Linked DNA regions of Homo sapiens. The protein of the gene in region 1 purifies or fractionates together with the protein of each later gene. This does not show direct contact. Each region holds a gene or a part of one and is shown in the gene's direction. Other genes may lie near its edges.

Region 1 (11,521 bases):
TTCAAAGTTAAATTATAAACTAAATGCCTCCCATGGTTAGCTTGGCCTACACCCAGGAATGAGTGAGGACAGCCAGCCTATGAGGCAAAACCAAGATGGAGTCAGCCATGTTAGACTTCTCTTACCGTCATAATCTTTGCAAAGGCAGTTTTACTCTGACATCAAAAGGTGAAGCAGAGGACACAAAAATCCTCGCTGCACATCCTCCATGAGTCAGCCAAAACTAGTCCAGCAATGGTGGTCAGTTTTTAGGAAGGGATGCTTTGTGAAACTGGCAAGCTGTCACCCTGAAACTGTAAAGAGGGTGGGGGAGTGCAGTCACTACCTCAGGTGACTGGCTAATAGGGATAAAGGAATGGGGTGTCCATTTCTTGTTTTCTAAAGCTGGTTTCTGCCTACTCTTTAGGAAATAATTCTGGTTAAAGATTAATAAGGAAGGGGCATACTAAGGCGTGTCTGACCTCTCTCCCCATCACGGCCAGACATTCAGTTTTCAGGGTTTCTCTGGGGACTGCTTGGCCAAGAGGGGGTCATTCCAGTTAGCTGAAGGGCTTAAGATTTTATTTTTATTCCTCATAGTGCTTCTAGCTCCCCACTGGCCTCCTCCTTAGCATAGCAGGAAAGGCTGAGATATTACCCATTTCCACTTTAACATGGAGGCTGTCAAGCAAAGTGGCAAGGACTCTGGAATTCAAATCCTGGCTCTACCACTTACCACGGGTGACCTTGGCAAGTGACGTGGGCCTCCATATCTGAGCCTCCTGCTCTGTAAAAAGAAAATAATGATACTACACCCATCTCATAGACAGTGGGAGGATTAAATGAATAAATGTAGGCAAATCACTTAGGACAGCATCTGGCAAATAATAAGCACTACGTGTTGTTATGGAAGAATTTGTCTTGGGTTCTAGAGTATCTTGGTGTCAAGCAATTCCTTAAAGGAATTTCAAGTATCAGCAAGAAGACAGAGGGCTATGTGGGAAGGGTTTACACTGTCTCTAAAATCAAAACCTTCACCTGTATATGAACAGCCTGACCATAACCTGAATATTACCCTTTTAGTGTACCTGCTCTGCCAAATACTTCCCTAAAATATGAGCCAAGAACCAGTCTGGCTGGTGAGGGCCTTGTTACCTGACTGCTAAGGGAAAAAAGGTCATACATCCCACTATCACTGGCCTCTGCCTCTGCCATCTGGCACCTGTAGATCCCCCTGCCCACACAGGCTGGAGCCCCTCTCTTCTCTCACTGACCCATGAGACACACTTACCACTCCATCAAATCCTATTTAAAGACTTATGAAGTGATCAGCACCAATAATGCTAGATGCTAGATTCAAACTACAGGATAACTATTTTACAGACGGCCAAACTGAGGTTCAGGAAAATGAAATCAATGGTTCCCAAACACCAGTCCAAGAACTGTTGCCAGTCCTTGTGGTGATGTTTTCACCAGTCTTCAGCCAAACTGGAAAAATAAGACTAAAAGCTTTAAGTTTTTCATACACCCGAAATTATTCTATTTTTAAATTGTGAGGTTATGTCCTATCTTCCCTTCTGTGTATACGGAAAAGATATCAAAATGACCCTTCTTTTGTAAAATGATATTGATAGGAGCTGGAATTTGAAACTAGATCACTGACTTTCACCGTCTCCTATTACACTATTTTAATTACTTCTAAATTTTTTTTTTTTTTTTTTTTGAGACGGAGTCTCGCTCTGTCACCCAGGCTGGAGTGCAGTGGCACAATTTCAGCTCACTGCAGCCTCCGCCTCCTGGATTCAAGCAATTCTCCTGCCTCAGCCCCCTGAGTGGCTGGGATTAAAGGCGCATGCCACCATGCCCAGCTAATTTTTGTATTTTCAGTAGAGACGGGGTTTCACCACGTTGGCCAGGCTGGTCTTGAACTCCTGACCTAGTGATCTGCCCGCCTTGGCCTCCCAAAGTGCTGGGATTACAGGTGTGAGCCACTGCGCCTGGCCCACTTTTAAATATTTTTAAATGACTTTAATTTTAAATTCAACAATTATTAAACAATCGTTTATAAATATTTTAAATTGTATAACATAATACACTTAAAATATCTTCAAATAAAACTCGGCCCATGGCTGACTCTTCATGGTATCCTAGGCAGGGTTAAAAACTCAAATCCTCACACGGATAGGCAGGTTACAATTTCAAGAAGTAGATGGGAAAAAAAAAGAAACATTCGCAAGTCCCTAAATGTAGGATTTAAGGGCGCATGTCTCCCCCTGCTGGTTGTGGTGGTAGGAAACCGAACCTAGACCACAATGGTACTGGGGAGAACTTGAATTGGAAAGGACCCTACAGCAAGAAGAATAGGTGCTTCAGAACCCACTATCCATCACAGGGTCCTTACCCCATCCATCATAGGGTCCTTACTCCAACCAAGAGTAAAGAGAGTAAAGTGAGTGAAGGTTAAAGAATTCGTGGCACCAGTAAACTATCAATAGATGCTGATTTACAAATCTTGGTAAATTAATAGGAAAGGAAGAAAAACGTTTACGGTGGTTTAGCTACATAAAAATATTCACTATCAATCTTCATGAATTGCTTATTCTGTATATCTAATTATATAGAATCATAGCATAAAATAATCATAAAAATTATGCCTATCATTAGTCTTGATTCATTTGGTTCCATTACAATACTTGTCTGAAGCTTAAGTTATTGGTACAGCATGGCTGTCTGCTCAAGATGTAGGTAAAGTCAAGGAAGTTTGGTTTATTTGCCCCTTCGGAGGACTAAGAGGGCCTCATGCTTTCGCATATTTCACTGATTCTTTTTTGCTTGGTATGCATTATCCCCTCACCTGCTTCCATTATTGCAAACCCAACTTTCAAGCTGTCTTTAAAGCTTTACCTGCTGGTCTCTTTCTACTCCAACAACCGAAAAAGAAAGTTTTTTTTTTCTCCCTTAATGTTATTGTTTTGTTCAGAATCTTTTGGTAGTTATCCCATTCTCTTTCATATTGCTTATTACATCATGTCTTATTTCCCATATCAGATTGTAAGTTATTTGAAGGCAGACTTTTATTCTTTTTTTTTTTGAATTTTATTTTTGTTTTGTTTTTTATTTAAGTTCAGGGATACGTGTGCAGATTCGTTACATAGGTAAACTTGTGTCATGGCGGTTTGTTGTACAGATGATTTCGTTACCCAGGTATTAAGCCTAGTATCCATGCTGCTGTTTTTTAAATTTTTTATTTCCATAGGTTTTTGGGGAACAGGTGGCATTTTGGTTATATGAGTAAGTTCTTAAGCGGTGATTTGTGAGATTTTGGTGAACCCATCACCTGAGCAGTATACACTGCACCCAATTTGTAGTCTTTTATCCCTCACCCCCTTCCCACCCTTTCCCCTTGAGTCCCCAAAGTCCACTGTATCATCCTTATGCCTTTACATCCTCATAGCTTAACTCCCACTTATGAGTGAGAACATACGATGTTTGGGTTTCTATTCCTTAGTTACTTCACTTAGAATATAAGTCTCCAATCTCATCCAGGTTGCTGCAAATGCCATTAATTCATTCCTCTCATAGTTTATTTATTTGCCCCTTCGGAAAACTAAGATAGGACCACACCTCATGCTTTTGCTTATTTCATTGATTCTTTTTTTGCTTTGTGTGCGTCGTACTCTCACCCACTTCCATTACTGCAAATCCAACTTTTAGCTATCCTTAAAGATTTACCTACTGATCTCTTCCTACTCCAACAACCAAAAAAAAACAAAGTTTTTTTTTCTCCCTTTATTTTATTAATTAGGTTTTGTTCACAATCTTCTGGTACTTATCCCATTCTCTTTCATATTATTTATTACAGCGCGTCTTATTTCCCATATCAGATTTTAAGTTATCTGAAGGCAGATTGTTTTATTCCACTTCAAAAGAAGGCAATATATTAATAGCTTCATGGATAAAAGCCACGGTTTTCGTTTGTTTGTTTTGGTGAGACGGAGATTTGTTGCCCAGGCTGGAGTGCAATGGCACGATCTCGGCTCACCGCATCCTCCGCCTCCCAGGTTCAAGCGATTATCCTGCCTCAGCCTCCCGAGGATTACAGGCATGTGCCACCACGCCCAGCTAATTTTGTATTTTTAGTAGAGACGGGGTTTCACCGTGTTGCCCAGGCTGATCTTGAACTCCTGACCTCAGGTGATCCGCCCGCCTCGGCCTCCCAAAGTGCTGGGATTACAGGCGTCAGCCACTGTGCCTGGCCAAAGCCATGGGTTTTTAGTTGAGTCCTAATGGGCAAAAACGCCACACAACTGGAAAAAAATACCACCTGCGTCATAAACTTGTAAGGAATCATAAAAGGATGCATATAAAGCGGCCCGGCTCCTAATTACTTGGTAATTGTTAACTATTGCTTTCACTCTGTCCCCAAAACAAAAGCCTTACATGGTGTAGGCATATTACTTGTTGGTAAAGCTGACTACTAACAAGTACACCCATACCCAGTAATACATTAGAATTACCTGTGTCTAGAGGACTAACGTGATTAACCACGACCTAGCAGCACTTACAAAGGCCTGGATGACCAGTATAAAACAATTCCCCACTATCTAAATCAGCACTGTCCAATATAACTTTCTGCGATGCTGGGAATGGGCTATATATAATCTGCACTGTCCAATAAAGAGGTCACTGAGCTCCTGAAATGTGGCTAGTACAACTGAGAAACTTATCCAGTCGTTAGTGACCATCTTACTGGACAGCTCAGCTCTTGAATCTGCCTCGACCCGTCAACTCTTTAAACTCGCCCATGTCCTCTTTTTCACTAGCGAAATAATTCTTTTTCTAAGTAACCTTCACTGATTCAAGGCATCAGAACGTCAACTGATCCCAAGCCCTTTTTTTCTTTAGCTGTTACACACGTGTGTTCACCGTGAACCTTCACCAAGAAACAGCATCCATATAAAACCCATAGCACATGACAAAGTCAGTCAAACATCAAAGGTCATGAAATCATCTACTTAAAATAACTCATCGCGCCTCGACCTCGTGAAGCACGGTCTCGAGGGTGGACGGGAACAAAAAACAAACAGGGCGACAGGCGTAGAGAAAATGCGAGGAGCACGCGGGGAGGTCTGGCACCCCTGTCACGGCGACTCCAGGCTGAGGCCGCCCGCACGCCCGCTCTCCCACGCCGGGCACTGTCGCTCCCGGCACGCGCACAGGCCGGACACGACTCGCCCCGGCCCCCACCCCCAACGGCGGCACGGCGGCACGGCGGCACGCACCAAGACAGTGCGAGAGTCGCTCCTCTCTCTGTATCGACTCCAAGCCGGCCCCACCCCCGGCTCCTCTGAACCCCGCCTGGAAACCTTGCCCAAGCCGCTCATTGCTCAAGGCCCCCGTACAAAATGGCGGCGAGGCCTGAGGAACCAACCATAGAGACGCCCGCCGGCCGCGGACAGAGCGTAGGCCTCTGAGCGCTGGCCCCGCCCCGCGCCGGCCTGGTCTTCCGGCGGGGGCGGGGAAAGGGCGCATTTCCAAGGGCCCTTCTAGGAGAACAGCGTGCGGTCTCCATGGTGCCGGGTCATCCGAGTCGGGTCACGTGGCTGGCGAAAGCCGTCGCGGAGGCGTGGGGAGGAGAAATGGGCGGGAGGCTGTGGGGATAGCGAGACACCCAGCGACGACGAGGTTGTCATGGTGCCGCGGGGCCGTGCTCGCGCATGCGCCACCTGACCCACAGGCCGGTCGTGGAGCTGCGACCCCGGCCCTAGGTGAGAAAGGGAGGGCTCGGTCCGGGAGGAGGGGAGCAGGGATGACGGCGGGAGAGGGATTGGGCGAGGAGCGTGGGGAAAGGAGGTGGAAGTAGGGGAGAGAGGAAGAGGAGCGAGTAGGCAAGAGGGGCAAACCGGGACTTTCGGAGGACGGAGAGCCAAATGGTGGGAGCAGGGCTTTGGTTTGCTGTGAGGGGCGTGGGAGAGGGAATCGCGGGTGAGGAGGGGGCTGCGTGTGGGGAGGAGGCTTGTGTGAGGGGCAGGTGGGCCCTGGTCTAGCCCTGGGCGCAACCGCCAGCCGGCTGGGCGGGGAGAGAGCTTGGAGTCCAGCCCGGCTGGGAGCTGAGGGCCAAGCAATGGGCAGGTGAGTGGGCGCCAGAACTAGTAACTGGGCGAGGGTCCTGGGCTTCCGGTTTGAGGTCGGGGGTGGTACCCTGTTCTGGCTCCAGGGCACAGGTGTGCTGCCTTTTCCAGAGACCTGCCGTCACCCTCGTTGCTGGTTGTTTCCCCTGAGTGGCCAGCTTGCCAGGCTTGGTGTCGGGGGTAGTGTTTCTGGGGAGAAGGTGGGCAGTGCCAAGTAAGGAGTTAAGTGGTTAGTGGGTGGGTTCGGGGGAGCTCTGATCCCGGCCCAGGTCACAGGCTGGAGCTAGGCTCCCTGTTATTGCTCAAGTCCTGGCAGTATGCATTGCCTGGGCGTTTGCCCTGGAAGGCTGGTGGTATGCCAGTCACAGCACAGTACTAGGGTCTGCCCAGTTTTGCCCTGCTGAGCTGGCAGGCTGGTGGATGCCTGGAGGGTGCACATGCTGCCTGGCACAGATGCAACGTGGGCTGGTGCGAATGGGTAGGTGGGCACTGTTACTGTGAACTAATTGCAGCAGGGGATCGGAGAAAGTTCTCTAAGCTCATCTCCCCTTTGAAAGGTGAAAATAGAGCCAAACTGGTCTAAAACATAGGAAATTGTATGGAATTGGGGTTCAGGATCTTTGACACGAATTTTCAGCCAAGTTGGAGAAATGGAATGAATGTGGAAGGGAAGATGAATATTAGACATTTAGGTAGACAGGGTTTTTCCACTGTTAAGATACCCAGACATTCTCCCAGAATGGTATCCCTGAATATGCAGGCCAAAAGAAAATGACTTCGGAGAAAAGCTAGTAATGTATTTATAATTCTAACGGGGATTACTCAAGGTTTTCTTTCTGTGACCTTATCACTTTATTGTATTTAAGCCTCTGGTTGGGCTTTTACCTCACACTTCTGTCCAGGCACACATGTTATACACGTGACACATTTTAAAGGGAACTTGAGCTTCCAGGAATGTTGCCAAGTGTCTATAAAAGGAGAGATCTGAAAGCAGCATTTCAGATCCTTTTCTTGTAACCCTGGATCTCCTTTTTAATCATAAGGACAAATCTTCACAAAGATTGTTTGTGGATTAGATCAACCCTTAATTTGGATGGTGGATTTGTCCCTGACGTTTCAACTTAGAATAAGGGGTAGATCAAATATCTGTTTCCTGCAGGGGACCAGACGTGGAGGTTAGATCTTAAGGTGACCGTGGTGTTTGGAAATGCAGAATCTTGACCTTCAAGCTGTTCAGGTATTTCTGTGACTGCTAAGCTACTAGAGCTGTCAGAGACTCAGCAGGTCAGAGATTTGTTGGAATTTATTACTCTATTGAATGCCTCATGTTAATTGTTGGGGGCTGAGGTTGCAAAGATGAAAAAAACAACTCGAGGTTGAGGAGACAAATAATTAGACTAATGTCAGAAGTGCAAAAAGAGTAGTAAGAGCTAAATGCTTTGGAGCACTTGCTAGGATTTTGAATTTTGTCCCCTTATATAAACTTATATATTTATTGATTCACTTTCTTTCTTTCTTTTTTTTTTTTTTTTTTTGAGACGGAGTCTCACTCTGTCACCCAGGCTGGAGTGCAGAGGCACAATTTCGGCTTACTACAATCTCTGCCTCCCAGGTTCAAGCTATTCTCGTGCCTCAGCCTCTTGAGAAGCTGGGATTACAGGCACACATCCCCAAGCCCAGCTAATTTTTGTGTTTTTAGTAGAGACAGGGTTTCACCATATTGGCCAGGCTGGTCTCCAACTCCTGACCTCAGGTGATCTGCCCGCCTGTGCCTCAAAGTGCTGCTGGGATTATAGACGTGAGCCACCTTGCCTGGCTCTGATTCTCTCTTTTCTTTTCTTTTCTCTTCTTTTTTTTTTTTCTTTTGACGGAGTCTCACTCTTCACCCAGGCTGGAGGGCAGTGGCAACATCTCGGCTCACTGCAACTCCACATCCCAGGTTCAAGGGATTCTCCTGCCTCACCCTCCCAAGTAGCTAGGATTACAGATGTGTGCCACCACACCCAGCTAATTTTTGTATTTTTAGTAGAGACAGGGTTTCACCATGTTGGCCAGGCTGGTCTCGAACTCCTGACCTCAGGTGATCCATCCACCTCTGCCTCCCAAAGTGCTGGGATTATAGGTGTGAGCCACCACACCCGGCCTGATTCACTTTCCATTATGAGTTTTAGTGTGTACTATCCTCTCTGGGAAACTTTTGGACAATGTGTTACATATACATGCATAAGAGGCCCAATTAGGGTAAATTCTGACAGTTTTGGAGCCTAAATTAGCCCTTTTAATGCAGAATAAGGTACATGTGTTTGTAAAGCAGCGTGAGTGATTTCCAGTCTATGCCAGGAAGCAGGAAGCAGAAAGAACACAGTGGGTAAGAGCTTAGTAATCCATTTTCAACTCCTAGTCAGTGTGAGCATGTAACTTTATTGTAAACTAATATCTAAGAGGAAAAAAATCAAGCAACTTCCCGAGGTTTTCAGACTTTGCCTTGCAAATTTTGGGGTTGAGAGCACCAGTAGTAAGTGAGGCTTTATGTGGTGCTATGTGTGAGTGGGTCCCTCAGCCACTCCCAGGAGGGCAGTGCTGCTACTCCTCCGAAAGAGTAAAGTTTGGGGAGGGATGTAGCCCTTTGTTCTACATCCCATGTGAGCCTCCCTGGCTGCAATGCTAAGGCTTTTTGCTGCTTAAGAGAACTTTACTGAAGATAGAGGCTTTCATATTTTTAATCATTTTCATATGAAAAATAGTCAATTTGCCATCCTAAAGTCGATTTTACATTCTTTATTTCCAACTGCCACCAACTCCCCAGGATCTAAATTTAGCATCTGTTCTCTTTTTAACTTACCTCTGTGATACCTTTCCTCACCTACCATAAGGGTCATAGTTGACCCTCCCATAACAAAAGACAGGTTAACAAGAGAAAAACATAACAGTTTTATTTAATCAAAGTTTTTTTTATGACACAGGAGTCTTCAGAAGTGAAGCCTCCCAAACTCAGGGAAAACTGTCTATTTTTATGGTTAGGTTTGATGAAGAATGGACGGCTGTGTAGAAATATGATTGGACAAAAAGGGTATGATCTGGCTGGGCATGGTGGCTTATGCCTGTAATCCCAGCACTTTGGGAGGCTGAGGTGGGAGGATTGCTTGAGTCCAGGAGGTTGAGACCAGCTTGGGCAACATAGCAAGACCCAGTCTCTACAAAAAATTTAAAAATTAGCTGGGTGTGGTGGTATGCGCCTGGAGTCCCAGCTACTCAGGAGGCTAGGGCAGGAGGATCACTTTAGCCCAGGAGGTCGAGTCTGCAGTTAGCTGTGATCGTGCCACTGCGCTCTAGCCTGAGCAACAGCGTGTGATCCATCTATAAATAAAAAACAAAACAAAAACAAAAAGAGTATGATCTAATAGTAATGGACTGAGGTGGGAAACCCAGCAAGGTCTGTCTGTCCAGAATTATTCTTGACCTCTGTGTAGCATTCCTTCCTCTCTGTTATAGGGCAGGACCCATTCTGGAATGAGGGTTTTATGATCTGCTATCGGACAAGACAGGTCAGATAATTTCTTTATGGCCAGGAAGTCGAGGCTGCAGTGAGCTGTGTTTGTGGCCTTGCACTCCAGCCTGGGCGACAGAGCAAGACACAGTCTCAGAAAAAAACAAAAAGCAACAACAAAGTGCTCATTATGCTAAAGTGCCATACTTGGGAGTATTATTTTCTGAGCCTCAAAAACCGATTGTCAGTGTTTCAGTATTTTGACTCCATGATCAATTATCTCTTATCCTACAAATTCTCAATAAGCCAGAATAAATTCCTGTGTATTTTCTGTAGCTCTATTGACTACACTTTAATAATAATAGCAAGACCTTTTTCATTGTTTTGCCGCAAGGATTGTAGAAGACTAAATTGGGATGCATTATCTAAAGTACCTGTAAAATAATCCATGTTTAGTAAGATAATGTGAAACTTCAAGAACCTAAGAACCTAAGTAAGGTTCTTAATTAGTTGCAACTAACATGAGCTACCCTCCTAATCTAAATCAACAGCCTGGTCCGACATGAATTAGTTTGAATGCCCATCCACAAGCCTCATCTACTTCCATTTTGGAGATGGCTTCTATTCACTTTTGGACAGTATTATTTTAGGAAAATTATACTATGCACATTTGTTGAATTTCATACAAAAGGATCCAATTTAATTAGAGATATAGTTTTACACTTTAGTCTACTTTTTAAGCTGGGCCGTCCATGCTGTCAAATTTCATAGCTGTCAGATAGACATTGCTTTTGCATAGTTCTCTGCAAGTTGTGACAGTGCCACTGTTTATCTTTTATGCACATAGGATTAAACGTGTGACCTGTGGAAGAGTGCTTGATTTGATGTCAGTTGAATGAGGAAGCCAGTCCCCTTAAATGAGTTAGATACGGGGCAAAATGATTTTTACTTGGAATTGTGTTTAAAATTCATTCTCATTCAGTTCAGTTTGTGTTCCCTTTAGTCTGCTCCTACAGTATGCAAAAGTACGAGCAAGAGGGTTGCTTATAAGCATCCTTGTCTTCTATTTAATTTTATTTTGAACTGCTTCTAGGGTAGTTAATGTTCTTCACTAGATCTTATATTAGCAGGAATGTCCAGACTTGGCACTCCAGGGTATTCCAGATACAGTGGTATTTGGCAGGGGGCTTGTGTTTTTCTTCACTCAAAGAACAACAGGATAGAGTCAGGAGTGCATCGTGAATTAAAACATCACAAGGCTTTGCTTGCATCTTCCCAGTTTCATTATTGTCATGTTCCCTGTTGGCCTGTTCTCCTTATGCCAGTGGTATTCCTTGTGTTATTATCATGCTGGCCTTACAGTTGCCATTCCTTGGTGACTCAAATGGCCATGTTAAAATATCTGGAATGTTCTTATTCTCAGCCAGCAATTTGAAGGGCCAATTGGTCTTATTCTTGGCACTGTTGATCTAGGTCTGGATCTGCTGTGGACTAGCTGTTTATCACTGGAGCAAATATAGGCCTCTCTCCTGGGCTTCAGTCTTACATGTGACTGCCTACCCAGGATCTCCACTTAGATGACCCACAGTAACTTCAGTCTCTACATGACCAAATCTACATGACCATGCCACCCTGCCCCACCCACCCAACTCCCTTCTGTGCACTTCTTGGGCTCCCTAGCTGAGAAAGTGGTACCACCATCTTCCCCCTACCCAGTCCCATCAGGTGGGCCTCCATGTTTTTCTTCTTCCCATCTCTACTGCCACCACCTTAATTCACCTGGACTGTCACGGTAGCAACTAAATGATCTCAATGCCACTCTTGCCCTTCTCCACTTTAGCCTCAGTTCAGCATCCAGAATGCTTTTAAAATGCAAAGCTGGTGTACACTTGTAATCCCAGCACTTTGGGATGCCAAGCCAAGC
Region 2 (8,278 bases), on another chromosome or scaffold:
AACTTTTTTCTGAATTGTTCATTTACTAAGATTATCTTTTTCACCTAATGTCTGTGTCCTGTTTGCTTAGTTTTATATATATGTAACCCACTTTGTGCTCTCAATTGATTTTTATTTATTTATTTATTTATTTTGAGATGAAGTCTCACTCTGTCACCCAGGTTGGAGTGCAGTGGTGTGATCTCAGCTCACTGCAGACTTCGCCTCCCAGGTTCAAGCAATTCTCCTGCCTCAGCCTCCCAAGTAGCTGGGACTACAGGCATGTGCTACCACGCCTGGCTAATTTTTGTATTTTTAATAGAGACGGGGTTTCACCATATTGGGCAAGCTGGTCTCGAACTCCTGACCTCAGGTGATCCACCCGCCTCGGCCTCTCAAAGTGCTGGGATTACAGGCGTGAGCCACCATGCCTGGCCTCAGTTGGTATTAACTGGGGGAGGGAAAGGCAGGTGGATAATGTTTCCCTGTTTGCTGATTGGGTGCTTGACATGATTAGTAGTGAATTCAGCTTGCTTTCTAAGTGAGTAACTAGCAAAGTCTTTCTATTTAGCTAGCTGCTAAATGGAAAATGGGTGAGTTTTGTTAAAGTAATAATGCAGGAAGCTGGGGAAAGTCCTATACCGGTTGTTAAGAGCAGATATAGGCTGAGTGCAATGGCTCATGCTTGTAATCCCAATATTTTGGGAGGCTCATGCGGGAGGATTGCTTGACCCCAGGAGTTTGAGGCTGTAGTGAGCTGTGATGGAGTCACTGCACTCTAGCCTGGGCAACAGAGTGAGACCCTGTCTCCCAAAAAAAAAAAAAAAAGAAAGAAAACCTTTTTTCCTTAGGTCCATCTAGTGTTCTCTTGAGGAGTGAATGGAAAAAGTGGGAAAGAAATAGCCCACTTTCCGTATCTTCACCCTGACTTCCTTATATAATGCTTGGCCTCTGCAAAATACTGTTGGGGAAAAATGGTTTGTTCTTTTCTTACCAAATAGTAACTCTGCTGATAATTTCTCTTCCCAACAAAGATGCCATTTCTCACAATATTCGAACAAATAAACTTGAGCAGATGCCCAGTACTAGTGCCCCACAGTAGAAATATTCTCATAGAGATGACAGCTTCTGCTGAGTTCAGTGGCTTGTACCTGTAGTCCCAGCTACTCCAAAGGCTGTGGCAAGAGGATCACTTGAACCCAGGAGTTCAAGGCTGCGGAGATTCAAGGCTGCTGTGATCACACCATCATGCTCCAGGCTGGGCAACAGAGTGAGACCCTGTCTCTTAAAAGAGAGATGGCGACCGGGCACGGTGGTTCATGCCTGTAATCCCAGCACTTTGGGAGGCCGAGGTGGGCTGATCACCTGAGGTCAGGAGTTCGAGACCAGACTGGCCAACATGGTGAAAACCTGTCTCTACTAAAAATACAAAAAAATTAGCTGGGCATGGTGGCAGGCGCCTGTAATCCCAGCTACTTGGGAGGCTGAGGCAGGAGAATCCTTGAACCTGGGTGGAGGCTGCAGTGAGCGGAGATTTCGCCGTTGCACTCCGTCCTGGGCAAGAAGAGCAAAGTTCCGTCTCAAAAAAAAAAAAAGAGATGGCAACTTCTGTCTTGATCTCTACTGTAGGAGAAAAACATGTGGAACCCTTCTTTCTGCTTTATCTTGATATGTCTCAGGAACCCTGTGCCTAATGAAGTTTATTAATAAAGTCAGGCTCAGAATAGAGACGTTTTCCAGTGCCAGTGCCATACTTTTTGTCATGGTGCCCCCACTTTGGTGAGCAGGGGAGCATAAAATTCATGGGATAGGGACTTTGTTTAATGCCATAGAATCCAGCACTTAAAATAATGTCTGGCACCTTCATAGGCACTCAGTATTTGTTGAATGAGTGTGAGTGAGTGAAAGGGAGGAAATGACAAAGTTCTGGCTGCGAAGCAAAGCTCATTGGTGTCTTGAGACTCAAAGAATAGACTTTTCTAATATAATCCTTTGATTATTATTTCCTGTCTCAAGATAAACTGACTGTTGGCAAGAGGAAACGAAATGAAGATGATGAGGTTCCAGTGGGGGTGGAGATGGCAGAGAATACTGACAATCCACTAAGATGCCCAGTCCGACTTTATGAGTTTTACCTGTCAAAATGGTAATCTTTCTCTGAACTGAATGTAGTGCACTCAGAAGGCAGTTAACATATTTTGGATTTCAGATGCTTGAACATCAGAAAAGTAGCTTGCCCGTGGCTTTAGACAAGGATTTACCATGAATTTTTTCCCCATTGTCATATCTATGTGGATTTTGAACCACAAAACAAATTACCTTGTCTTCATAATTATTTTATGAAAATGTCTTCAAAAGCAAGAATCACTGCTATTGTTTGATCTTTACAACTGTTGTACAACCTTTATGTGATACCTAATCTGTAGTTATTTTGTTATTTGTATAGAAAAGAAATTTTGTTTTGCTAAAGCTATAATAGAAAAACAATTTTTAAGGAATTGAAATTTTCTAAGTAGTCCTTTTCTTAGAGGAACTTTATGATTTTAGAGTTGTAACACTTTTTTTTCTGAAAGAAATGTAATAGCTTCATTTGCCCTTTGATAATGTGTATTGAGTGCCCTTGGAGTTCATTCCAGGATATTGGGCACTTCCAATATGTGGTGCTTGGCCATAGTGTCACATGTGAGTTGACTTTTTTGTTGCTCTTAATAATGTTTGAAGTACTAAAGTTTATGATTTACACTTTGTCTTATATTAACTTTATACTCACTTCCAATCCATTGTGATTTCAGTTGATTCCTGGGAGGAAATATTCCTGTAAACTATTTATCTCTGTGGGTACCTTGCTTTCCCCATTGTGAGTCACAGTGGAGAAAGGTTGAGAGCCATATTAGGTTGGTGCAAAAATAATTGCAGTTTTTGCCCTTACTTTTAATTACTTTTAATGGCAAAAACCTCAGTTTACTTAAGAATAGTACATATTTCCTATACTCTCTGATTTCTAATTTTCTTTTTTCTCTTTTTTTTTTTCCCCTGTGGATAGTTCTGAAAGTGTGAAGCAAAGGAATGATGTGTTTTACCTTCAACCTGAGCGCTCCTGTGTCCCGAATAGCCCCATGTGGTACTCCACATTCCCGATAGACCCTGGAACCCTGGACACCATGTTAACACGTATTCTCATGGTGAGGGAGGTACATGAAGAACTTGCCAAAGCCAAATCTGAAGACTCTGATGTTGAATTATCAGATTAAAACGGAAGTGAGGTTCTTATTTTCATACATATTGGTATGCACCAAACTGTGAATGCATCCAGCTGTTGGAAAATGATGTATAAGTCTAAGTCCTCTTGACTTGACCATAAGATCATGGAAAACAGATGACTTGTGAACCCCACAGTGTGGATGTGCAAATGAAAATTGAAGGAAAGAATATGAACTGAGAAATGTTCTTTGGCAGTGATATAGTTCTTAGACATCTTCAGAATGACTAATTTCTCCGAGTGGTGCATAATCTTATTTTGTTTGGGAGTAACAAATCGTGGAATATTTTTAAGGAAAACTGTTGTATAAAACTTTACCATAGTAACCTTAGACCTTAGAGAGGTAGCTTTGGAGTGAAACTTTGGCTGCAATAGGCTACTTTGGCAAGCCCTCCGTAAAAGTCAGAGGAGAGATCAGTACAGAGCTAAGAGTGACATCAAATGAGGACTGTGGGACCCAGATTTGAAGACCCAATAAAAATACTCAACTTTTTAAAAAAGATAGTGAAGTGGTCTTGATTGATTTTGATTTTCACTGCCAAGCCAATCATGTGAAGGACAGAAGCTTTTGCCATGGGCCCCTCACATCAGGGAAAATGACCTTCACTGCTGTTAACAGTAATGTGTCCCTTTCATTTTCTGGATCAAGCCTTCTCAGCGGTGGGTCTGGATGTGGGTAAACTAAGGTAAAGGGGATGATATTCCACAAACTAATTATGCACACAGAAAATCTGTGGAGCCTATCAGACCCCAAGTGTCTTGAAATGTTTGTAGAAACCCACTAAAATGCCCCTTCTCTGGGTGTGGGCCCTTATTGCAGCTGTCTCACAGCCTGAGCTGTGGTACAGAGAAATGGGGGTTCTCCTTTTATTTTCATTTTTTTTCCCCAATGGCAGCTTTTCTCCCGTTGTTTTACCTTCCTATTTCCCAAACAGTTCCTCTTATTTTGTCTTTTGCACCAGTTTCTGGAGGCCCTTGTCATTTCAAAAAGGATAGTCTCTTTTCTTACTCTGGCAAACCTGTGAGTGATTCCACAAAGATACAGTATTACTTAGCTATCTGAATTATGATAGAAAAGGTCCTAGTTAGGTTCCTATATAAAGCATTTGGAAGATGACCTTGTTGCCCTTGAAACTTGAAAATAGGGATTCTGGGGTGAGGATACAAAGACATTGTCTTGCATATCCATAAGCAGGTCTTAGAGCATTATTCCAAACTCTAGCTGTTTCAGTAGTTCTATGAGGATTGCAAGTCATAGGTGTGTGTGGCATATCAGTCCATCTCCCTCATCTCCATTCTCAGTTTCTTCCCCACAAAATTTGGAATCAAAGCTTTTATGACGTTTGCCAATTGCAGAACTTCTTCAGCTAAGGTTAATTTGACGCTATGATAAAACTGAGAGATGTCAAAAAGCCTCTTAGAAATTTTAATCTTGAAAGACTTTTCAGGGTATCTCATTTTTTAGGTGGGGGTGGCAGGTGTATTTCTTTTTTAACAAATAAAAGGCATTTAAGTAAAACTAAAATGAAAAAAGTAGGCCTTCTGACATTGTGTACTTGGTGGTTCTGTCCCTCTGCCTGTAACAAATCTCATTTTTGTTACCAAGAACTGTATGAAAGAAGTAAATCCACCCCGATTCTGTATGATTAATTCCATCTGTGTTTGTCATTTCTGACTGGAAAACTTCTTACTCCATACCTTGTTCGATATGGAGGACAAATAATTGGATTGTCTGATAAGTCTGCCAATAAACTATCCAGAAATAGCAAGTGTAATAGTCCCCACTATACGAATTTTATGGTTTGTATAAACACTAACATTTTCCCCTTCTGTAGTTGTATGAAAAAACAAATATTGTTAGCATAGTAGATAAATTGTTATGAAATACCAGAAAAAAAAATCTGTATCTTTTACTGAGAACACCCAATACCCAGATAAATGACTGTATCAGGATTTCATTTGCATGTTAGTCCACAGAGTTGCCCAGAACCCTAAATTTATTCATAAGAGAAAATATTGATTAATTATTGGTCATTCCTCATAAGTGTAGCTGTTGATGTGTGCGTCTGATTATTGCTTTTTTAATTTTATGAAAATTGTGTAAAATTACATTTTTTTTCCAGGGGAGAAAAAAACATCAAACAAAAACATCTAAATCATCCTTTTTGTTCTTTTTCAGTTTTTAACCACTTTTAGGTTTTCCCCTTACAGAAACCACAGAAATATTCCCTTAGAATAAAATAGTATATTTGTATTTGATGGGTGAGTTCTTCTTCTTTACGTCTTAAAAGAATTTGAAATCTCTTTTTCTGATTGACCTTATTGGTATGACCCAGCAATTAGTAAAATTACAAAGAAAGAGAGCAGTTTCCGAGAAAGAAATTTTTTTTATGTAGTCCAGTCAACATATTTTTTCATTGCAAGTTCTTTTATTTCCTTTTTTCCATCAAAAGACTTGTTCCCATTTTTAGCTAATTTACTGACTATATTCAAAGTCCCAACAGGTAGAAATATCAGAGATCATTTATACATATCATTTCAGGCAAACTTTTTTGAGATTTACAAAGCCTACATCAGTTCAACTTTAATGAAATTGTAAGACTAGAATAAAGGATATGTTCATTCTTAAGTATAAATACATGTTTAAAACAGGAATGTAAGACTAAATAGCATTTTCCTTCGACTTCAGAGTTGTCTTGGTATTATGCAGCTGTACTTTCAAATTCCGTATCGACTTTCTACCTACCTGCCTTGTGGCAATCCTAAATTTATAAAACAGGTTTTCCCAAAAGATCTAATGTAAAATGAATTTCTATTAATGAATTCAGAATTTAATTTTCCAAAGAAGTCTCCTAGGGTATTGAGTTGAAGTTTTAGGAAAGAAGCAATCATACCCTGAACTCCTCTAGACTAGCACTTGTCTGTTACACTGTGCTATCATCATTGAAGAGAATAGTGATTGAGAGGCAATGCTATGTAGTGGAGAGATCATAGGCGTCGAAGCCTAGTGTTTCTACTTACTGGTTGTATAACTTTAGGTAAATTACTTAACCTCAGGCCAGGCACGGTGGCTCACACTTGTAATCCCAGCACTTTGGGAGGTCGAGGCAGGAGGATCATGAGGTCAGGAGATCGAGACCATCCTAGCTAACATGGTGAAACCCTGTCTCTACTAAAAATACAAAAGTTAGCCGGGCGTGGTGGCGGGCGCCTGTAGTCCCAGCTACTCGGGAGGCTGAGGCAGGAGAATGGCGTGAACCCGGGAGGCGGAGCTTACAGTGAGCCGAGATCGTGCCACTGCACTCCAGCCTGGGCAACAGAGCGAGACTCCGTCTCAAAAAAATAAATAAAAAAATAAGTAAATAAAAATTAACCTCTCTGTGCCTCAGTTTTGTTATCTATAAAGTGGGTATAACTCCCTTATTAAGTTGTGCCTGGCACATGGTAGGCTTTCAAATGTCAGATATTTTTTATTACATGCAAATTTCCTGGCCTGTACTAACACATTAAATAAATGTTAATTCCCACACTACAGTCTGAATTTTTACTAAGTATAGCACTTTGGCTTCTGCAAAACATAATACTCTATTTATATAACCAATTCTACATATTTGAATCAAACAAAATTACAAATTCTTCACTTGTGCTTATGTGCATATCAATAGTAATCAACATCACAAGAATCCATTGATATTTTCACTATATTGAAAAATGGGGCTGGGCACGATGGCTCGTGCCTGTGATCCCAGCACTTCGGGAGGCCAAGATGGACAGATCACTTGAGGTCAGGAGCTCGAGACCAGCCTGGCCAACATGGTGAAACCCCATCTCTACTAAAAGTACAAAAATTAGCTGGGCGTGGTGGCAGGTGCCTATAATCCCAGCTGCTTCAGAGGCTGATGCAGGAAAATCACCTGAACCTGGGAGGCGGAGGTTGCAGTGAGCCGAGATCAGGCCACTACACTGTCCAGCCAGGGCAACAGAGTAAGACTGTCTCAAAAAAAAAGAAAAAAGAAAGAAATGGGCATGTATATCAGTATATATAGGAACAGCATATGATAGAGTTTATTAGTTTTTTTCTTTATATTTCTTTTTGTTTGTTTTGAGACACAGTCTCACTGTTGCTCAGGCTGGAGTGCAGCGGTGCGATCTTGGCTCACTACAACTTCCGCCTCCTGGGTTCTAGTGATTCTTCTGCCTCAGCCTCCTAAGTAGCTGGGATTACAGGTGTATGCCACCACACCTGGCTAATTTTTGTATTTTTAGTAGAGACGGGGTTTTGCCATGTTGGCCAGGCTGTTCTCAAACTCCTGACCTCAAGTGATCTGCCCACCTCAGCCTCCCAAGTGTTGGGATTACAGGTGTGAACCACCACGCCTGGCTAATATTTCTTTTTTTCTTTGAGATGGAGTCTCGCTCTGTTGCCTAGGCTGGAGTGCAGTGGCTCGATCTTGGTTCACTGCAACCTCTGCCTCCTGGGTTCAAGTGATTCTCCTGCCTCAGCCTCCTGAGTAGCTGGGACTACAGGTGCACGCCACCATGCCTGGCTAATTTTTGTATTTGATGGGGTTTCACTATGTTGGGCAGGCTGGTCTCGAACTCCTGACCTCAGGTGATCTGCTGCCTGCCTTGGCCTCCCAAAGTGCTGGGATTACAGGCATGAGCCACTACATCTGGCCTATTTATATTTCTTTGCATATGAATGCCAGGTCATAAATTTATTTTTTAATTGGGAGAAAAACCTTAAATCTATGAAACTTCTTTTACTTGGTAGGTTATATATGTCATCAGTTTAGGAACAAGACAACGGTACAACAGCAATCTCCCCACGCTTCACTTCATTAACAGAACTGCTCCTTCCCCAAAAGTTTTAGCTAGGCAGTGGCTCCCTTGGTAAAAAAGTGTATTTTCCAGGCTAACTTGTAGTTAGGAGTGACCATGGGACGAAGTTTTGACCAATGGCATGGAAGCAGATGTGAGTTTACATCTCCCAGGCTACACTCCTAAAAGGAAAATGCATGCTCCTCTCTTGTCTTCCCT
Region 3 (12,082 bases), on another chromosome or scaffold:
AGGATCTCAGGAGTATACATGGAGTGATAGGGCCAGAGTTATTACTTTGCATACTTTTGACCACAAGTGACAGAAAACACAAGTAAAAATGGCTTCAATGATAAGGAAAGCGAGTATCTTATGTAACAATAAGACACAAGATAGCTTCCAGAGTAGTCATTTTAGCATCTCACAAACATCAAGGAATCCAAGAGCATGCACCTGTAGTCCCAGCTACTCAGGAGGCTGAGGCAGGAGGATCCCTTGAAGCCAGCCTGGGCAACCATAGCAAGACCCTGTTTTCCATTTCTCTACTTTGTCATGACAAGGGTGTTGGCTTTGTCCTTGGTCTTGTTTTCTCAGAGAAGCTAGATGACTACAGAGACTCTAAGCATCAAATCCTCACACAACAGGTAAGGCCTTAAAAAGAGAAATACTTCTGCATTTCCACTTTTTTTTTTTTTCTTTAAAAGAAAAAACAACAGAGTCTCACTCTGCGGCCCAGGCCGGAGTGCAATGGCGCGATCTCGGCTCACTGCAACCTTCGCCTCCTGGGTTCAAGCGATTCTCCTGCCTCAGCCTCCCAAGTAGCTGGGACTACAGGTGTGCGCCATCACGCCCAGCTAATTTTAGTTTTGTTTTTTTTTTTTTAATTTTTTTTTTTTTAGTAGAGACAGGGTTTCACCATGTTGGCCAGGCTGGTCTCAAACTCCTGACTCCAGGTGATCTGCCCACCTCGGCCTCCCAAAATGCTGGGATTATAGGCATGAGCCACCATGCCCGGCCTTGCATCTCCACTTTTTAAGAGCAAAGAAAATCTTTTCCAGAAGCATTCTAAGCAAAGTAACCCTCACATCTTATTGTCCATGACTGTGCCATCCATGTAGTCCTAAACCAGTACCTGATGGGCAATTGATTTAAAACTAATCAAGCATCACGTCCCTTCTACTGGGATGAGACTAACCTAAAGAACATGGCCACATGATACCAGAACCAAATTAGGGTGCTTTCGACAAACTACAAGGTAATCAAGATGATGCCACACAGGTTTATTGCAATGATTCTTACCTGAAGCCACGGCACCTAGATTGTGGTGTTGGATCTGCTGCCTACATCGGAACTGAAGGTTGGTCCATTAACATTTTTCACAGAACAGGATTGGGTCTCTGGACATCATACAGGAAGATGGACATCATACAAACAGGCCTTGGTCTTTTTAGTGCTTTTTCCATTCCTCCCAGATCCTATTCATCAGAGTAGATAATCTATTGGTCCATCTCCTCTAGAGCTCATATCAGAAATGGGGACCCTGATCAACTTATTTCCTCCCAAGATCCAGCCAAGGGTGGGGTGGTCTAATTACTATTAGCTCAATTGCTTTGTCAAAATTGGGAAGATGATCTCTGACTAATGAAAATTAAACATTTCTCAGGTGAGATTGCTAAACTACCATCAAGTTATCTGAATTACTTTACCTCTTAACATTCATGATCAAACTCCTAAACACAGGAAGACTTGTAAGTCTCTTCAAAAGGGAGAAACTCATGGTAGGAAAAGTAAACTGTCAATACTCAGCCTAATATCTTTTTTTTTTTTTTTTGAGACGGAGTCTCACTCTGTCGCCCAGGCTGGAGTGCAATGGCGTGGTCTTGGCTCACTGCTACCTCCACCTCCCAGGTTTAAGCAATTCTGCCTTGGCCTCCCGACTAGCTGTGATTAGGTTCCTGCCACCGTGCCTGGCTAATTTTTGTATCTTTAGTAGAGACGGGGCTTCACCATGTTGGCCAGGCTGGTCTCAAACTCCTGACCTCAGTGATGTGCTCGCTTGGCCTCCCAAAGTGCTGGGATTGCAGGCATGAGCCACCGCATCCAGCCTTTTTGTCTTCTTGGGTAAAAAAATCAGGAACAGAACTTGGAGAACCCTCTTGTATGATTGTATATAATACCGAGAGGACTGAGGAAGACTTGGGATACCATAACTGCTTTAAGAGTGTTTAAAAACTGTAAAAGTAAACATCAGTTGAGTTATTGATGCTTATACACACATACAAACGCATAATCCCTAAGGGAAAAAGTGTAAGCAACTCCACATAAAAGTAGATGTGTGCACAACTATTCCCTCATTCTTGTCCTAAGTTTTGTCCTTCCTTGCAGTTTGCTCAGAATTTTAGTATATTGCTATTCCTGTCCCTAAGAAATACTGCTTCTCTCCCCGCTGCTTCCCCGGTGTACATACCATACTGCAACAACCCAGCTTAAGAAAATTGATTTTTGATAAGTTAAAGCAGTATTTCCTAGATGAGAGTACTCAGAGCAACTTTCAAAATCAGCTAGGAAGCACATTTGAAATAAGGACTTAGTGTGATTCACCCCAAACCTACTAAATCAGTCTCTGGGGGTGGGTCTAAAATTGTGCACATTCTCATGTACATTGAATTTTGGGAACCACTGAGCTAACAGAAAAAGAAACTAATACCTGCTCATTGGTTTTTGTGAGAATATATATATATAAAGTAACTGATGCACAGTAGGTAAAATACAGAAGTCAGTGCTTACAACAGTGCCTGGCACACAGCAGGTGCTCAATAAATACATGTGAACAAGTTAATTAAATGACTATTTTTGTGGGTGGCCCTGCTTTCCACCTAAGGCCAATCTCAAAATGTTTTCACTTTTAATAAAAACATAAATACGACTCCAAAAGCATTGAGAAAATGAATGCAGCTTTTGCTGAAGTTGTTATTTTCCAGGGAAATAATGTAAGAGGGTTTGCATTACACAATGAAGTTCCCTAAATACCGCTTTAAGATATCTCAAATTTCCTGGCTAGGTGCAGTGGCTCACGCCTGTAATCCCAGCACTTTGGGAGGCTAAGGCAGGCAGATCACATGAGGTCATGAGTTCGAGACCAGCCTGACCAACATGGTGAAACCCCGTCTCTACTGAAAATACAAAAAATTTAGCTGTGTGTGGTGGCACATGCCAGTAATCATAGCTACTCAGGAGGCTGAGGCATGAGAATCGCTTGAACCCAGGGAGGCAGAGTTGCAGTGAGCCGAAATCACACTACACTCCAGCCTGGGCGATAGAGCGAGACTCTATGTAAAAAAAAAATTAAAATTAAAAAAAGATAGCAAATTTCCTCTCCTTAAGGCAGCTGCACCACCTCCTTTACCACCCTCTCTGTCTCAGGAATGCTCTGTCCTCCAATTACCTCTCTGCTTTTCCTTCCCTTAGACCATGCTCAAGCTCATCTTTCCTATACCAGAAGCCCACCATAGATCCTCTTCTCTCTCTAAACATATGGGAGAGTGTTGGCCTACTTGTTTCTCCAAACTGCACTCATCAATCTGCCCAGCAAATCCAAGCATCTTCCCCAGGATTCACCCTCCACAGGATGCTGGGGGCAGGGTAGGAAGAAAAGGTAGTTTTAAACATTAATAATTTATTTTCCCCAGTCACTTAGGAAATCAATAATGGGTAGTTGCTATTTATTTATTTATTTATTTGAGATGGAGTCTTGCTCTGTCACCCAGGCTGGAGTGCAGTGGCGTGATCTCAGCTCATTGCAACCTCCCCCTCCTGGGTTCAAGCAATTCTCCTGCCTCAGCCTCCCGAGTAGCTGGGATTACAGGTGCCCGCCACCACACCCAGCTAATTTTTTGTATATTTAGTAGAGACGGGGTTTCACCGTGTGAGCTAGGACGGTCTGCACATCCTGACCTCGTGATCCGCCTGCCGTGGCCTCCCAAAGTGCTGAGATTACAGGCGTGAGCCACCATGCCCGGCCTATGTAATGTTTTTTTTTTATTTACCATCTTTACCATTTTAAGTGTACAGTTCCCAATGGTAATAAATATATGTTCAGCCTTCTTTTCCCCTTGTTGTTTTCCACCCCCTCTTCTCTCCCCTTCCTGGCTTCTGTGTTATTTATTGTTATGCATCATTGGAAATAGTATCTTCAATTTAATTACACTCTGAAGCAGGTGTGGTTTTTTGTTGTTTTGGGTTTGGGTTCTATCTTGTTGTTTTTTGTTGTTGTTGTTGTTGTTGTTGTTGTTCTTGGACCAAATACAATATCTAAGTGGCTTTAGGGACTCCTCTCTAATCTAAGTTATATTGTTACAATCCCAGCAGAATGCTAAAAGGACAGGAGTTTACAGCTTGTGAGGCCGTGGTTCCTAATTCCAGATGGACAAAGGAGTATTTGTTCCACCTTTAAAATATTTGTTCTTGCCTGAGTACTTAGCAATGAAAGAAAATTAATGAACAAATTAAGTGAAAGGCAAGCAATGATTCCTGGAGAGCAAGGCAGCTCCAGGGCTTTTGGCAGGGGAACCATGCTGACCAGAAGGAACTGTGTGCATTCTATTACACAAATTCTCTAGCATTCTATTATACAAATCATCCAATCACCTTTCTCACATTTTTTTTTCCAAGTTGAAAATATGAGAAAACCACTCACTGGAAATGAGAGATTACCTTCCTATCCATCTGGCAAGACATTATATGTCTCTCTGCCTTATCCTATGGGTTATATAGCTACTCTTTAAAAAACAAAAAAATCATGTCTTAGAAAGTAAAGCTCCAGAGCATAAAGAAAAAAAGAGAGCAAGCAGGCTTTAAACCTGAGCAGTAAGGGGAATACCTATTAAGCAATGAAAGGGTTGTGCCCCATGGAATGCTGTAGGTCGGCTTTGTTTGTGCATTATTACCCTTCCTGCTTTCGTATTTTAGATTCTGGATTCCCCTTCTCTTGCTTTCAGGCTTTGGTGGAAGTGAATCATCGTTTCTAAGAAACGGGGACTGCAATGATTCACAGGCAAGCTTACTGGACACCACAATAGGAACTCCTAAGAAGGAGACCTAACTTTTATGGTCTTGCTTCTACTATCTACTAGCTGAGTGATCCTGGCCAAAATACTCGACATCTCTGAACTTCTGTTTCTCTACTAAGACAGGAATTAAGAAAGAGGTTGTGAGGCTCACTGAGCCGATAAGGGGGAAAATGCATTGTAAGCAAGGCCATGTATAGAATAGTATTTACATTTTAACCCAGATCTTAAAGCCCAGGTCTAATTAATTCTACCTGTTACCCCTTGGTAAACCACCTCAAAATAGTGTACACTTGTCTGGAAAGCCAAGGTTTGATCACATTCGGGAAACCCTGTATGGAATTACTGTTTCTAGCTGCCAGGAGAAGTTGGTGTTGGTAGAATTTGGGGTGGAGTTCCAAGTCAAAGCTAGGAATGAGACGTTTCAAGACTGGTTTTGATTAGGGATGTGTCTTGGTGTGTGTTGAGGACAGCACAGTTTTCAGCACGTCTCCCTTACCTCTAAAGTCCTAGCCCCTGCTTAAGCCTGCAACAGTTTTCTCCTGTCATGCCCACTTCTGCTTGGGAACACACTTCCAAACCCTCTGCCCAGCCTCTCACAATGGCCCTAAGTACTGCCCTGAGGACACATAAGGTGCTGGTTAAGACGTTGGAATTGAGTCCTTGTAGGAAAGTTATTACCTTTAGGCTGGTTGCAAAGTTTGATTTGGTGTCTTCTCTACTGTGACTTTCCTTTACTTACTTCTACTAGATTACCAAGGAATGGGTCTAGGGACCAGTGGGAGGGCAGCAAACCAGTGTATTCTAGACACGTGGCCATAGGATGTAGGGCTGTCAAGTGATGCCCAAAAGATCTTGTTTCTGGATTTACCCAACCGTTCCAGGAGGCAAAACGGCTTCCTCGGGACCCTCTCTCTGTCATCTACACTCTCGTCTCTGCAGCTAAGCCCTTCCTTAAGCAGAAAAGAGCAGGGTCTCTCGTCCAGCACCCTCCTCCCCAACCCTAGCCCCGTGCCCTCCGCTAACCCACCGTGCAATTATCTTCATTCATCCTTTACCTTTGCCCCGAGGGTCTAACAACTGCAATCTTCGGAATGCTGGGACAAAGCTTACTATGAGCATGGAAGCCTGTTTTCAATAGGGTGGTTGCTAGAAGGACTCAACTGGCCTTTTAGTGCTTTGCTGCTCGCGGGAGGGCTCGGCGGGGCGGTGTCCGCAGCGACTCCGCCCTTGGCCCGGGTCTCTTTCCCGCCGGGAAGCCCCGCGGCGCCCAGAGCGGCGGGCGGCTGGCTCCAGTCCGCATGCTCAGTAGCTGCTGCCGGCCGGGCTGCGGGGCGGCGTCCCGTGCGCGCCTACGGGCTGCGGTGGCGGCCGCCGCGGCACCCGGCAGGGCCCGCCAGTCCCCGCTTCCCTGCTCCAGAGCCGCCGCCTGGGCCGGGGCAGGGCGGGCCCGGGGCTCCTCCATGCTGCCAGCCGCGGGGCTGCGGAGCCGACCAAGTGGCTCCTGCGATGGCGGCGGAAGAGGAGGCTGCGGCGGGAGGTGAGGTTGCCGGTGGCGAGGCGACGGCCCCAGGTGGGCGCGCGGCGTCTGACGCGCTGGGGGCGTCCCCGCGACGCCAGGTCTGCCCCCGCTGCCCCGAGGGAAGCGCCCGCGCCTGTCCTCTCGGGCCGGAGCATCGCCTCCGAGGGGCGGTGGGACAAGGCCGCCCCGTGGGGCACAGGTGCGGCGCGGCGCCCGGCGCGTCCTCCCGGGGAGCGGGACGCGGGGAGGGGAGCTGGGGTCGCCGCCGGCGCTCAGGACGCGGTGTCTTGGTCCCGGGCCGGGCGCATTGGCGAAAGGGAGCCAGCGGGGGACCTTGCACCCGGCGCTGGGAGCATCCGCCTCCACCCACTGCTGGGCGCCCGCGTCGGCGTCGGCATGGCATGCACTGCTGCGGGGACTTCCTATATTTCTTCTTTCTTTTGTGTAAACCAGTTGTCAGCAGCCTCGGACCTAGCCCGGTTCCTGTGAACCCCTCCCCTCTGAGCTGATAATACTCGCGGCTTCCCGGCTTGAACCGCTGCCCCGCGGTGGAGCGCGCAGGTGGGCAGGTGCGCGTGGACGCGGGGCCACACTCCGGGATCGCAGCCCGCTCCGCGACAGCCCTCCATAAGCGACAGGCGGCTCGTGTCTTTCACCGCTGAAGCTTCAGGAAAGCCGTCAGTGGAGTTAGCTTGTTCGATTATGTATTTCTGTGGTATTTTTGTGAATGGAGTTGGAAGTTTGCGGTGCTTTTTCCTTCTCGCTAGTATTCACTGGCAGTATTCTGTAGTTCCTTACAACGGGGCCTTTGGGACCACTGCTCACAATTACGGAATGAATACAAAATAGCTGTTGTTTAAGACAAATGAGAGGCAGGAAAACAGAAATAACTGAAGGAAGACTGGCAGAGAAGTTCAGGGAAGCAGTTAATTCTCCCCTTTCCTTTTGGAATAAGATGATAGAGTTTTAGATTCTTCTCTGAAATAAGGCAATGAGAGGAGGTGGCTTTCGAAATTCTAATATAATTGTGGGAATTTACATCATGGGGCGATTTCAGAAATTCGATCATTTGAATATTCGTAGTCTTAGGTAAACCCTTTGTTGAAAATAGAAGATGGCACGTGTGGTGTTTATAAGCTCTGACACCCTTTCTGCTCCGTCTTGTGACTGAGCTCTGCCCTTTACTGTCTGTGTCACCCAGGTTATTTGAAATCTCTTAGTCTAAGTTCCCCCATCTGTAAAATGGAGATAACTATGCAGTCTGCCTTATAGGATTGTTAGGAGTAAATGAGATATGAGATATGAATGCAAATAAAATGCTTAGCCCAATACTTAGGAAATAGTAAGTGCTTCATAAAACATTAACTTAATGTAGTTATTAATTTACAACTTCAATTTGCTTTGTGAAATTGGTGAGTGCTGTCTGGTCCATTAAGAAAGTGTTGTCCCTTGTGAGTTAAAATTGGCCAAACTGAAAGGAAGTGAAAATGCACCTACTAATTCAAAGAAAATGCACCTACTAATTCCCCAGATAAGTCTTACGAACTTACAACAAGCTTTTAGATAAAGTTTAATGCTATTTATCTAACTATTTTAGATTAATAGTTTATTGCTCTTTGCATACCAAATGTAAAGCTGGGAATAATAAAAATTAAATTTTCTTAATTAAGGGTAGCAATGTTTCTGTGCGGGCTGGGAGAGCCCGCAGGTATGAGTACCTAAGATGTCACAGACATTTCACAGGGGTGCTTCTGTTAGTCTTACAACAGCGTTGTGAGGTAGGTAGTATCTCCATTTCACAGATGAGAAAACTGAGGCTGGCTCACAGTTATACAGCCAGGACATGACAGAACTAGAGTTAAAATCCATGGCTGTCGCCCATACTCCTTTCTTTTCTTTCCCATCTGACTTGGTGGTGCTAATGAGCAAGTGTGCTCACTTCCAGACACCTGCTTATCTAAAGAGTAGTAAAAAATAGAACGCTCAACGAAACCTCTAGGAGGAAAAAATGTATATGTATTTTTACTATTTCTCCCTATTCCCAGAGGGAAAACAAAAACAGGCCTCTGGGCCAGTTGGTGGCCATCTACAAAACTAGCCCTAAGGTTTTGTTTTGCTTTGTTTTGTTTTGTTTTGTTTTGTGTTTTTTTAACAGTGTAAACCAAACTATGGGTTTCCCCACCCCATCAGTTTTAGATGGTAAACACCGAAATTGAGCATGCTGCCAAGTGACTGGGTGTCCTCCTAATAAATGATTCCAGAATCCTTGGGGTAGGAAGAGGGCAGTCTTGGGGAGCAGCACATTTCCAAGACTCACTGCCAGAGATGGTCTGGGGTTGAGGCCTCTGTGGGGCAGCTTTCTCACCTTCCGTTTTCTTACCAGCTCATGTTTTCACCTATGATAGTGTAAGATCCAATTCTTTTACATGTAGTTCTGCAATTACAGTGGTTTAAATTTACTTTGTGAGTCAGAAATCAAACGTCATGTCCCAATCAATTTTGCCTAAGCTCCTGTTACTGGCATGGATCCTTGGGCAAAATTTCAGCCAGAAATGCATTATTCAAGATAAACCAGGATGGGCTAATTACTTTTCACATATTTAAGGGGGAGGAAAATAGAGAAGGAAAGAGAGAAAGAGTGAGAGGAGGGAGAAGGCAAGAGAGGAGGTGTGAAGTAAAGAGAGGAGGAGAGGGGAAAGGAGGAGGAAGGAGAGAGTGAAGGAAGGAGAAGGGGAGGAGGGGAGGGACTGCCACTCCATCAAAGTTTGACTCCAGGAAAAACAAAAACTAACGTTTAAAATATATAGGGAAAGCCAAAATATCAGTAGGAGAATACAGTGATTTCAGTTTACTTTGTCCTTGTGAAATGACTCCCTAGTTCTAAAAAGCATGATGTTCTGTGCTGTGAACATTGAGGTAGCATCCTTTTGAAATCTCCATTTGTGTCATGTTCAGGAAATCATAAATGAGCAAATAACAATTCATTCTGGTAGCCCTAGTTTTCAGTTGTCTCATTTAATTGAAGACCTCCACTTCTCTGCATTGACAACTGAGTTACTCGGGTGCTTGGGGTCTGGGTCATTAGTCAGCATCATCATGGTCATAAGCATTTTCAGGGACCTCAGAGTGTGCCATGTGCCCTACAGGAGGCAAGGGCACCTGAGACATCCGCCTGTTCTGTGAGACAGTGATTTCCTGCCCTGGTTTTTGCAAGGTTACTACCTGTAGTGGCTCCCCTGGTTCTCAGCATCCCAGCCCTCTGTAGCCCCTGCCTTGCCCAGTGCCTCACCCCTTCCCAGTGGCAGGAGCCAGTGGGAACTAAGAGCCTTCAGTGTAAGCCCTTATTGGAGCTAGGACTGCAGGTGAGATATGTTCTCTGTAGTAGCGTGTAGTATTTCTAGATATTTACTGATAATTTATGCAATACTTAGCTATGTATGCCCTGCCGCACCCTGTTTCCTTCTCTTACTCAGGTGCTGTCACACTTACTGGTCCCTGACACATACTGTTTACATTGTATCACACTAGGCTATAATATCCCATTTACCCACCCAATTTTTTAACTTAAAATATTTTTAAACCTGGCTGGGCGCGGTGGCTCACGCCTGTAATCCCAGCACTTTGGGAGGCTATGGCAGGTGGATCACCTGAGGTCAGGAGTTTGAAACCAGCCTGGCCAACATGGTGAAACCCTGTCTCTACTAAAAAATACAAAAATTAGTCCGGCGTTGGTGGTGCGTGCCTGTAATCCCAGCTCAGGAGGCTGAGGTGGGAGAATCACTTGAACCTGGGAGGCAGAGGTTGTAGTGAGTCGAGATCATTCCACTGCACTCCAGCCTGGGTGACAGAGCGAGACTGTCTCAAAAAAAAAAAAAAAAAAAAAAAGTATTTTAAACTTCCTTAAAACTTCTTAAAATCAGTTCAGTTATACAGTGTTAACATTCTCACCTGAAAATACTTAAATGGTTGGCATGATAGGAAATTTGACATTTATGTAGCTAAATTATTTGTATTTCATTTCTCTAGTCTTTAATCTTATGGTTTAAATCTCTAGATGGTACCATTACAGCGAGATTAAAAACAAAGAAGTCTAAAGGAAAAGGAAATGTAAAGAGAATCATTCTTCCACTCTATGCTTTGCATTAAAGGATATTTAGAATTGAAGGTTAAGACTATTGTGATAAAACAATAACTTCCAAGACATTCAAAGTGTTTTACTTACAACATTTCATACATTTTTAAGTAGATTAGAAATATACTTTATCATATTTTCCAAGCATATCACAGGGAAAGTAGAGAATCATCTACTACCCTTCTTGACCAAAGTGCCTCCACCTTTGCCCCTGTGATATGTCCTATACTCAATTATGTGAAGGAACCTGCCTTTCCCCAACATAATGTACACTTTCCCACCTCCAGGCCTTTCCTCAGGCTGTTGGCTGTTCCTGGAATACCCCTGCCCTCCCTCTAGATGGGTCTGGAGAATCTTAACCAATCAAGCTTGAAGGCTGAGCGCAGATGTCACTTTTTTTGTATGTGTGGAGGAGGAGAACTGGTGTGGGAAAATCAATATAAGCTTTGGAACTAGGCCACTGGGCTTGTGATTTCTGGTTTCATTACTTGTCAGCTTTGTAAACTTGGTCAAATTTTAAAACTTCTCTGAGCCCCAATTTCCTTATCTGTAGAATAGGGGTAAAAATACCTAACTTGGAAGGTTGTTTTGGGAATTAAATGAGATAATGATTACAAACTGTTTAATGAACTCTGACCTTCAACAAATGATTTTCCCCTTTTCCTCATGCAACCTTCCCAGAATCTCCTCGTCACCCAAATTGAAATTATTCTCCCCTCCTATTTTCACACTGTAGTTTTTTTGTGTGCCTATGATAACACTTGTGCCTGTCTGCCACAAGTTATTTGGTTTCTTAGCTCCACCCTTAAGTTGCACATTGCCAGGAGGCCAGAATTGGTTCTTACTCAGCTTTATAATCTCCAATTTCTTGCACCTATTAAGTGCTTAATAAAGGCTTGCAGATTTTGAATGAAGAATAGTTTGCTTAAGGTGTGGAAAGGGTTAGTTCATTCTTAAAGGACCCATTAAATACGCACTATTTACTAGGCAAACAGAGAAGCAGAAGTGGATAAAGCAGGAGAAGGGGTTAAAGAGCTTACAAAATCTATTAGGCTGGGTGAGAAATGCAGCCAAAATATTTGTAATATAAGGTAGGCACATGGTACAATATATGGGCTAACTGTTAGGAGTTAGTCTCCTCCCCCACAGTTGGGAGAAATTATATCTAGTTCATGAAAGAGGGACCACAGAAGGCTTTCAGAGAAGGGGTTAATTTTAGTATCGATGGAAAGACAACTCTTGGAGAGGCAGCCAAAAAAAAAAAAGGTTTGGGAGGGGGTCTTCCAGGGAACAGAGTAGGCATGGAAATGGAAAATCACCAGTGACATGCACAGAAGAATTGATGTTAGTATCCTTTGGCTTTGGATAGGAAAACTGAAAAGGAAAGAACTGGCCTACTGAAAAGTTTCATCATTTTCTATTGGGCTTCCCCTCCAAGGTCTGTGATGAGGCATGGACAGTGAACACAGGCAGCCTGTCTTACACATAGGTGAGTTTCCTGCTCTACAAAAGGAAAGATACATGCATCTTCTTTTTGGTTCCTGGCAGGCAACAGAACTTTTAAGTCACCTTGAAAGGCAAATTATGGCATATTTCTGATCAGTAAGAAAGCCG

What was found.
Region 2: the proteins of CIPC (region 1) and ZMYM4 purify together in Homo sapiens (affinity purification with mass spectrometry; 3 studies listed by BioGRID and IntAct, with this or other methods). This does not show direct contact.
Region 3: the proteins of CIPC (region 1) and BMAL2 purify together in Homo sapiens (affinity purification with mass spectrometry; 2 studies listed by BioGRID and IntAct, with this or other methods). This does not show direct contact.

What each region holds. Positions count from the first base shown.
Region 1 is NC_000014.9:77,092,615-77,104,135, forward strand, and holds the start of CIPC (CLOCK-interacting pacemaker), read left to right. Parts: upstream 1-5,643; 5' UTR 5,644-5,747; intron 5,748-11,521.
Region 2 is NC_000001.11:35,416,448-35,424,725, forward strand, and holds the end of ZMYM4 (zinc finger MYM-type protein 4), read left to right. Parts: intron 1-1,995; coding exon 1,996-2,125; intron 2,126-3,022; coding exon 3,023-3,230; 3' UTR 3,231-5,611; downstream 5,612-8,278. UniProt on the Homo sapiens protein: Plays a role in the regulation of cell morphology and cytoskeletal organization.
Region 3 is NC_000012.12:27,326,750-27,338,831, forward strand, and holds the start of BMAL2 (basic helix-loop-helix ARNT-like protein 2), read left to right. Parts: upstream 1-6,086; 5' UTR 6,087-6,323; coding exon 6,324-6,354; coding exon of another isoform or gene 6,355-6,387; intron 6,388-12,082. UniProt on the Homo sapiens protein: Transcriptional activator which forms a core component of the circadian clock.